2 separate regions of the Homo sapiens genome follow, and region 1 is linked to region 2. The links come from fine-mapping of genetic effects on gene expression. A gene starts in region 2. The other region holds a variant in brackets. All regions are shown on one strand. Distances are from middle to middle. Region 1 has its middle 55 kb from the start of ZFP64. Region 2 holds the start of ZFP64 (ZFP64 zinc finger protein).

Region 1 (4,393 bases), 54 kb before region 2:
GTAAAAAATCCTACAGAAGGTCTAATTTTTAAACAGAATTCTCCATTCCAACATAAAGAGAAGCCATAAAATACAAATTCAATCTAATTTGAACTTACGGACCACTTTTTTTTGTATGGTCTGTGAGCTAGGAATGGTTTTCACATTTTTATTGTTATTTTTATATTTTTTTGAAATGGGGTCTCACTCTGTCACCCAGGTTGGAGGGCAGTGGCACAATCTCGGCTCACTGCAACCTCTGCCTCCTGGGCTCAAGCGATCCTCCCACCTCAGCCTCCCAAGTAACTGGGACCAAAGGTGCACGCCACTGCACCTGGCTACTTTTTTGTGTGTTTGCTAGAGACAGGGTTTCACCATGTTGCCCAGGCTGGTCTCGAACTCCTGACCTCAAGTGATCTGTCTGCTTCGGCCTCCCATAGTGCTGGGATTACAGGTGTGAGCCACTGTGACTGGTCTGGTTTTCACATTTTTAACTGGTTAACAAAAATCAAAAGAAAATTAAATTTTGTGAGGTGAAAATTTTATGAAACTGAAATCTCAATGCCTATGAATGGAATTTTATCGAAGCACAGCCACGCCCACTGCCCTGAATATTGACTGTGGCTATTTCCCTGCTACCCCAGTGGGGCTGAATAGTTGGAACAGAGAAGATATGGCCCACAAAGCTGAAAACATTTACTATCTGGAGCTTTACAGAAAAAACACTGCTGATTCCTGCTCTATGGCAAAAGGTCTGCAAATTGGGAGTTTTGTACTATGGAAATACACAAAGATGCTTTTCTTTTCTTTGAGACAGGGTCTCGCTCTGTTGCTCAGTCTGGAGTGCAGTGGTGTGATCATGGCTTACGGCTCACTGCAGCATTGACGTCCTGGGCTCAAGTGATCTTCCCACCTCAGCCTCCCAAGAAGCCAGTACTACAGGCATGTGTCATCAAGCCCAGCTAATTTTTTGGTAATTTTTGTAGAGGCAGGGTTTCGACATGTTGCCCAGGCTGGTCTCAAACTACTGGGCTTAAGTGATCCTCCTGCCTCAGCCTCCCAGAGTGCTGGAATTACAGGCATGAGCCACTGCGCCCTGCCAAGATTTTCAGTATATACAGGCATGATTGGCTGGGTTCGGTGGCTCACGCCTGTAATGCCAGCACTTTGGGAGGCCGAGGTGGGTGGATCATTTGAGGTCAGGAGTTCGAGACCAGCCTGGCCAACATGGTGAAACCCTGCCTTGACTAAAAATACAAAAATTAGCTGGGCATAGTGGTGTGTACCTGTAGTCCCAGCTACTCAGGAGACTGAGGCAGGAGAATTGCTTGAATCAGGGAGGTGGAGGTTGCAGTGAGCCGAAATCACACCACTGCACTCCAGCCTAGGCGATGGAGGGAGACTCTCTCAAAAAAAAAAAAAAAAAAAAAAAAGAAAAAACCAAAAAAAAGAACAACAACAACAACAACAACAAACAGGCATGATTAAGGACATCAATTCTCAGATCCTTAACTTCTAGGCATACCTTTTCCTAAAACTGATCACCTAAGAACGCGCAGAGAAAGTGACCCATTATTAATAAACCATACTGAACCAATGCATGGAGCCATAAAATCTGAGATATCACAGCATCAATGTTGAGAAGGCAAGTGATTCCATAATTGGGAAAGAAACCCCAGGTTGTTTTCAGTTCTTTGTTTTTAATAAAATTGACCCAATTAATGACAACTGATCAATATGTGATTTTCTGGCATAGAATTCAGAAAAAATTAAAATAATTGAGAAATATTGCTATAACAATACAACTTGTATTTCTATATTCTTATTTATGTGAATAAAACTCAGAGTTTACATCAATAAAAAAGAATTTGACACATAACTGAAAATAAACTGTATCTCATTCTAGCAACTGCTGAAAAATGGTTTTTTAAAAATTCATAATCATAAAGAATATATAAGCTAACTAAAAACCAGGCCTATCTACCTCATTAAAATAGAAAAACACCAGTACCTTGCTTATATTTAATAACTGTTTTTCAAATTATATAATATATATATGTTGCTTTGGTCAAAAGTTCCTAATTATCTTGTTTTTTTGAGATGGAGTCTCACTCTGTCTCCCAGGCTGGAGTATAGTGGCGTGATCTCGGCTCACTGCAACCTCTGCCTCCCGGGCAAGTGATTCTCCTGCCTCAGCCTCCTGAATAGCCGGGACTACAGGCATCCACCACCACACCCAGCTAATTTTTGTATTTTTAGCAGAGATGGGGTTTTGCCATGTTGGCCAGGCTGGTCTCAAACTCCTGACCTCAGGTGATCCACCCACCTTGGCCT[C/T]CCAAAATGCTGGGATTACAGGTGTGAGCCACCGTGCCTGGCCCTAATGGTAATTTGATATTGAAGAAATGTCTAAAGCTTGGAGCCCTGTGATCATAGAAAATAAAAGATGTGAATTTCAATTTATATAGCCATAATTTTGTTGCTGAGAAGTATGATGAAATAAATAATAATTTTTAAGATTAATAATATTTCCTATTTTGAAGCCCTGCTCTCTATCTGAGAAGTTTCAGAGATGGGTTCTCTCCACCTGACTGGCTAGAATGAGCCACTGCCTTGCTTTTTTTCCTGGTAACACCATCATTTTGTCTCAACTTTGCTGGGCTACAGGACCTAGGGCATCTAAGAAGTGGATCAGATTGGGATCCAACTTTTCATCTCCACCAGAACAGAGTTTAACGACTACTGAAGAAAAAAAGATCTTATGTCCAAGGGTATAATTCATCTGCCAGGACAAAAGAAGTCCCACCTATGTGCCCTTCTGAGGAATATGCTCCAGGAAGTACTCCAACCAAATGAAAATGAAATCAGAGTAAAAGCGCAACATAGGGAAGCTGAAGGGTGTAAGAAACTATGGTGAACAATGAATGCAGTAATTTTTGGTTAAATCTAAATGGAGATGGTCAATTGGGAATTTGAATGTAAGAGACATACCATAGGGCAAAACTTAACAAAGGCCTAGAAATAAACTTATAAGTCATCTCAGCAAAACTCAGAATTTGAGGATGGCGGCTGTAGAAGATGAAGTCCAAAAGCTTCCTCTCATCAGGGAAGAATTTCTTAATGGAAGATTGAGGCACGGTTAATGTTTACTTTTTACACAGCAGTAGGCAAATATATATTTAACAATCATTGTTAAATATTGGAAAGCAGGCCCGGTGCACTGGCTCATGCCTCTAATCCCAGCACTCTGGGAGGCAAAAGCGAGCAGATTGCTTGAGCCCAGGAGTTCGAGACCAGCCTGGGAAACACGGAAAAACCCCATCTTTACAAAAATAAATAAATAAATAAATAAATAAATAAATAAATAAATAAGCAAGCCAGGCATGGAGGCACACATCTGGAGTCCCAACTACTTGGGAGGCTGAGGTGGGAGGATCACTTGGGCTGGGGAGGTAAAGGCTGCAGTGAGCCAAGATCACTCCACTGCACTTTAGCCTGGGAGACAGAGACCCTATCTCAAAAAAACAACACACAAAAAATTGGAATGTAACTGTCAGCAGGATGGAGATGAATATATAACTTTCTAGAGATAGGAAATAAAGTTAAAAAGGAAAAAGGAGAAAACCACAAACTTTAATAAATAGCAAATATTAAATAAGATGGAAGTGAATAATAGCACATATATATTACTGTAATAAATACAAATGATTTGAATTGTCCTATCAAAGACAAGGAGAGGCTGATAAAGAAAGATACTGAATAACAGAATGGGCAGATATGAACCAGGCAAATGAAAAAAAAATACAAAATAAGACTTAGAATGTTATTATGAGATAAAGCATGATTTAAGGCCAAAAGCTATTATTACATAGAAGGAACAGGTACATGAGAAAAAAAGGAAAAAATGACAAAGAACGTAGAACAGCTACAAACTTTATATGCATCAAACAACATATGGCAAAATATAATAAAAAAAAAAGCACCCTGGTAATATAAGGAAAGCTTAGTTTTAAAAATGCAATCCTCGAGAGAGATTTTTTAAATATTTCTTTCAGAGTTTACCAAATAGATACAAACTAAGAAAGGATTAGAAGAATTGAATAATTCATAAAAATTTAAACTCTACAGAGACTGTGTATTCTTCTCTAATAGTCACCAAATACGTACAAAAATTGGTCATGTAAATGGCCATACAGAAAACTATTAAATTATAAGAAGACATACAAGCAGCCAACAAGCATATGAAAAAATGCTCAACATCCTAATCATGAGAGAAATATAAATCAAAACCACAGTGAGATAGCATCTCACACTAGTCAGAGTGGCTACCATGAAAAAGTCAGAAAACTAAAGATATTCACAAGGTCGAGGAGAAAAGGAAACATTTGTACACTGCTTGTGGGAATGTAACTTAGTT
Region 2 (4,393 bases):
TGGCTCACGCCTGTAACCCAGCACTTTGGGAAGCCGAGATGGGTGGATCACAACAAGAGATCAAGACTATCCTGGCGAACATGGTGAAACCCCGTCTCTACTAAAAATACAAAAATTAGCTGGGTGTGGTGGCACGTGCCAGTAATCCCAGCTACTCAGAAGGCTGAGGCAGGAGAATTGCTTGAACCTGGGACGTGGAGGTTGCAGTGAGCCAAGATCATGCCACTGAACTTCCAGCCTGGTGACAGCGAGACTTCATCTCAAAAAAAAAAAAAATTGCATAAGATCATAATATTGTAAATATTCAGATCATAGTATTGTAAAACTAATCCTTTTCCTAATTTTTTTCCTTTTTTTTTTTGAGATGGAGTTTTGCTCTTGTTGCCCAGGCTGGAGTGCAAGGGCACGATCTCAGCTCACTGCAACCTCCGCCTCCTAGGTTCAAGCGATTCTCCTGCCTCAGCCTCCGGAGTATCTGGGATTACAAGCGCCACCACCACGCCAGGCTAATTTTGAATTTTTAGTAGAAATGGGGTTTCTTCATGTTGGTCAGGCTGGTCTTGAACTCCCGACCTCATGTGATCCGCCCGCCTCAGCCTCCCAAAGTGCTAGGATTACAGGCGTGAGCCACCGTGCCTGGCCCTTTTTCCTAAACATTGCATAAACATTGTGCTATATCATTAAAATCTCTTCATATATATATGATTATTTAATGGCAATACATTATTCCATGGTGTCCATGCGTCATAATCTTCTCAGCAACAATAAGGTATTTACATAATTTCCAATTTTTCCCAAGTTAAATGATACAAGACTACCTTTGTGCATATATGGTTAGATAAAATTATGCCTCATAATTTTCTGAAAATTTGTAAGATATTTACATTATGTCCAATTTTCCCCAGGTCTAGCTAAGACAAGAAATCTCTGTTCAGAAATACAGTTTGGTTGACTTGCTAAGGAGACTGGGCTGAGCACTGTGATAAGCCATCTTGCAGGGATACACTTAAGCACTTTGCAATCAATGGATGGAAGGAAGGAAACCTTTTCTTCTCTGGCAGATACTGAGATACCCATGGAACTAACAAGGAAACAAGGAAGTGAGACATGAAGTAGCTTGCATTGCTGACGATTCCTTAATGATGGAATAGGACTGACACCCAGAATGAAAGGATTTTCATAACAGATAATGTCACTGGTATGTGGAAAGTGCAAAAGTAACGACATAGACCTTCGTTAGAATCTTGACACTGTCGCTTAACAACAGTGACTTTAAGCGTGGGTTTTCTCATCTGAAAAATGGGAGGAGAGGTTTCTAATCCATGGTTTTTGTTTGTTTTTAATTTCTCCAAGAAAAAACACGGGCTTGTTATGAGAATTAAATGGGATGGTGCTCGTACCAGCACAGTCCCCCCTCCCCGCCAGTCCCCCAGCATGTTACCTGCTGGGTTCTTACTGAGGTACACTATTTAAACATGGACATATCTGAGCCCCACCTAGGAGATACTGAGTCATAACAGGGTGGGGTGGGGAGGATGGTGTTTAGGAAAATCTGTGCTTTTCACAGTAATGCAAGGAATACACCGCCAAGTTTGGGACCCAGTGTCTCCCAAACTGTTAACAGTAGCAGCTAACAAGCTGGGAGCTTACTATGTGCCAGATTTTCTGCAAACCCCTGGTAGATGGGTTCTCAAACTTCATGTGCTTCAGAGTTGCCCAGGCAGCTACGAAGGACAGCGGATCCCCAGCCCCACCCCCGAGATTGAATGGGTGGGGCCCAGAAAGCTGTTTTAAAATACACGCTCTCGCTCCCAGGTGGCTGGTTGCACTCAGTCTCTGGACCACACTTTGGGAAACAATGCACCGGGAGAAACCAGGGACTTGAAAAACGCTGATGTCCTCCTCGGTTAAATAAAAACTGAACCCCAAACCCAAATAAAGCGACCACGGCCCCGTTTTCCATTCAGATCTCCACCCTTAATGAGGAAAAGGCTTTGCAATGAGCCGGCAGGACCTCGTGAGACCTGGTGATTCCCCCAATCTCCAGGCTCTAATTTTGAGCCACTGAGGCAGAAGTTTTCCCATCAGTGTTGCCCCGTTTACCCTAGATTCCTCCCTTTCTCCTGCCCGCCCCAAACTCCGCCTGATGGGGCGGGAATGCCCTTAGGGGGTGGCGATTGTCTGAACGGCGTGCCCTCCCCCACTGTTCCCTTCCAAGGGGTCTCGCAAGGCTGGAGAGCGCCCCCGGTCTTGCGCCAGGTCGGGTGCGCCCCCACCCCAAGCCCACTCCGGCGCCCCCTGCACAGCGCGCCCGCCGCGGTCCCCGAGACGCGGCTCCGAGCCGTCACCCCGATTTCGGGGCCCCGGGCCTGCTGGCTGCGTCGCAGACGTGCTTGGGCCCGGGCCCCGGAGCGCGCACTGGGCCCCGGAGCGCGCACTGCTCCCGGAAAAGCACTTACTTTGCACCGAGCCCGCGAAGCTCTCGCCCTCGCTGCTCGCGTTCATGGCCGCAGACTGGGAGGTCCCCGGCCGGCCGGGATGCCAAAGTGGGGGACGCTGATCTACATGGTGCAAGGACTTTTCCTTTTATTTTTCCACACCCCCCACCCTGCCTTCTCCCAACTCTGCGAGGCGGGGAGGACGGATGTAAAGCAAGCTGCACTTCCGCTGCCTAGAGGGCGCTGGCCGGGCCCGGCGCCCCAACCTGGCTTTGCAGCAGCGGCTCCCCGGGGAAGCGGCGGGCGAATCCCGAGGCCCAGGCCCGCGGAGCCCCCCAACGCCCCCGGGGAGCTGGATGGCCACGCGCGTCCCGGCGTGCTGGGCGACCGCGGGTGGCGAGGGATGCGCCCCTGCCCGCACTCTGCGTTCTCCGCGGACGCGATTGGCCTCCCCGGCTCGGGGCGCCTTTTGCACCTGCAACCCCAGGCGTTGGGCCCCCAGCGCGGCCGTGCAGCAGCGCTGCTCCCGGGACGCCTGGGTGGTTTGCGGGGAGACCCACGTGCGGCTGCCGTTGCGGGGTGGGTGCGCGGGGCGCGGCGAGCTCCGGAGAAACCCAGGTTGGGCGTGAGCGCTGGGCAAATCAGCAAAGCGCTGGGCGGGTCCCTTGCCCCGCTAGGGAGACTGAGAGGACCGCGAAGAGGTGGGGTCGTAGCGCGGAGGGACCCCTGCTCCAGGAGCTGCCAACTTTATCGTGCATCGCAGTCGCCTGAAAGGCTTGTTAGAACACACGCTGTTGGGCCCACCCTAGCGTTTCTGCTTCAGTAGGTCTGGGGCGAGGCGTGAGAACGAGCATTTCTAAGTTCCCAGGTGATGCCCCTAGTGTTGGTCGGCGTCCACACTCTGAGGACAGTGACCTCTCTGCTCTGTCCCTCATGTCTTACTACTACTGTCTCCCCCGGGCTCCTGCGTCAGCCCTATTGTCTCTCTGCCGACCCTCCCAAGCCTCAGACCTCTCCCAGCCTCGAGGGATTTGCCCATAGAGTCTGTCCTGCTTCTGAAGGTCAGCATTCAAATTCACACTCAGGGAGGCCATGCTTGGCCTAATCTAATCATTCTAATATTGCAGCCCCCTCCTCCTCCCCCAACCACTCCCTGTCTCCTTCCTGTTTTTTTCTTTTTCTTTTTCTTTTCTTTTCTTTTCTTTTCTTTTCTTTTCTTTTCTTTTCTTTTCTTTTCTTTTCTTTTCTTTCTTTCTCTCTCTCTGCCTCTCTCTCTTTCTCCCTTTCTTTTTTTAGAGAGGGGGTCTTTCTCTGTCTCTCAGGCTGGAAGAGTGGTCGGATCCTAGCTCATTGCAGCCTCCAACTCCTGGGCTCAAGCAATCCCCCCTACAGGCGTGGGCCACCACCCTGGCTCACTTTTTAATTTTTATTTTTGTAGAGATGTTGCCCAGGCTGGTCTCGAATTCCTGGCCTCAAGCGATCCTCCATCAGCCTCCCAAAGTGCTGGGGTTACAGGTGTAAGCCACCATGCCTGGCCTGCTTTGTCCTTAAAAGGTGTTAGATGGAACATATTATGTATCTCGAGTATATCTGCTTAGATATAATTTAGTTGTATATTATCTGTGTTCTCCTCCCCCTTATTTTCAGTAAGTCCCTGTAAAAATGGGGATTAAAAAAATCTCTTTGCTTCACTGATGTAGTCCAGTGACTTGGCTGGTGCCTGACACATAGTAGGCTTAGTAAATATGGCTTGTATAATGAATGGGATTTTCCCTGCTGCTGCCTCTAAGGCTTGGTTTCTGCCTGCAGCAGCTGTTTATTCTCAAGTGTTTGTGAAGTGCCAGGCACTGGGCTAGCTGCTGGAGGTAGACCAGGGAGGCAGTCAACATGAAATAATCAAATCAGTACTGTAAATATATATATATTTAATATATAATATTTAATATATTTAATAT

What was found. PIP is the estimated chance that this variant, and not a neighbour inherited with it, causes the effect. A credible set is the group of variants that fine-mapping cannot tell apart.
Region 1: its variant is the best candidate, but not a certain one, in a credible set for the expression of ZFP64 in whole blood (TOPMed, PIP 0.68).

The regions. Positions count from the first base shown.
Region 1 is chr20:52,134,709-52,139,101 of GRCh38, forward strand. It overlaps a transcript of ZFP64 not described here. Among named protein-coding and RNA genes, the nearest start is that of ZFP64, 55 kb to the right of the region's middle. The variant C/T (reference allele first, on the strand shown) is at 2,314.
Region 2 is chr20:52,189,132-52,193,524 of GRCh38, forward strand. ZFP64 (ZFP64 zinc finger protein) reads right to left here and starts at 2,648. Exons shown (of 6, transcript NM_018197.3): 1 at 2,460-2,648. The coding sequence starts at 2,505. RefSeq lists enhancers at 1,503-2,359, 3,400-3,529 and silencers at 2,120-2,359, 2,720-2,989.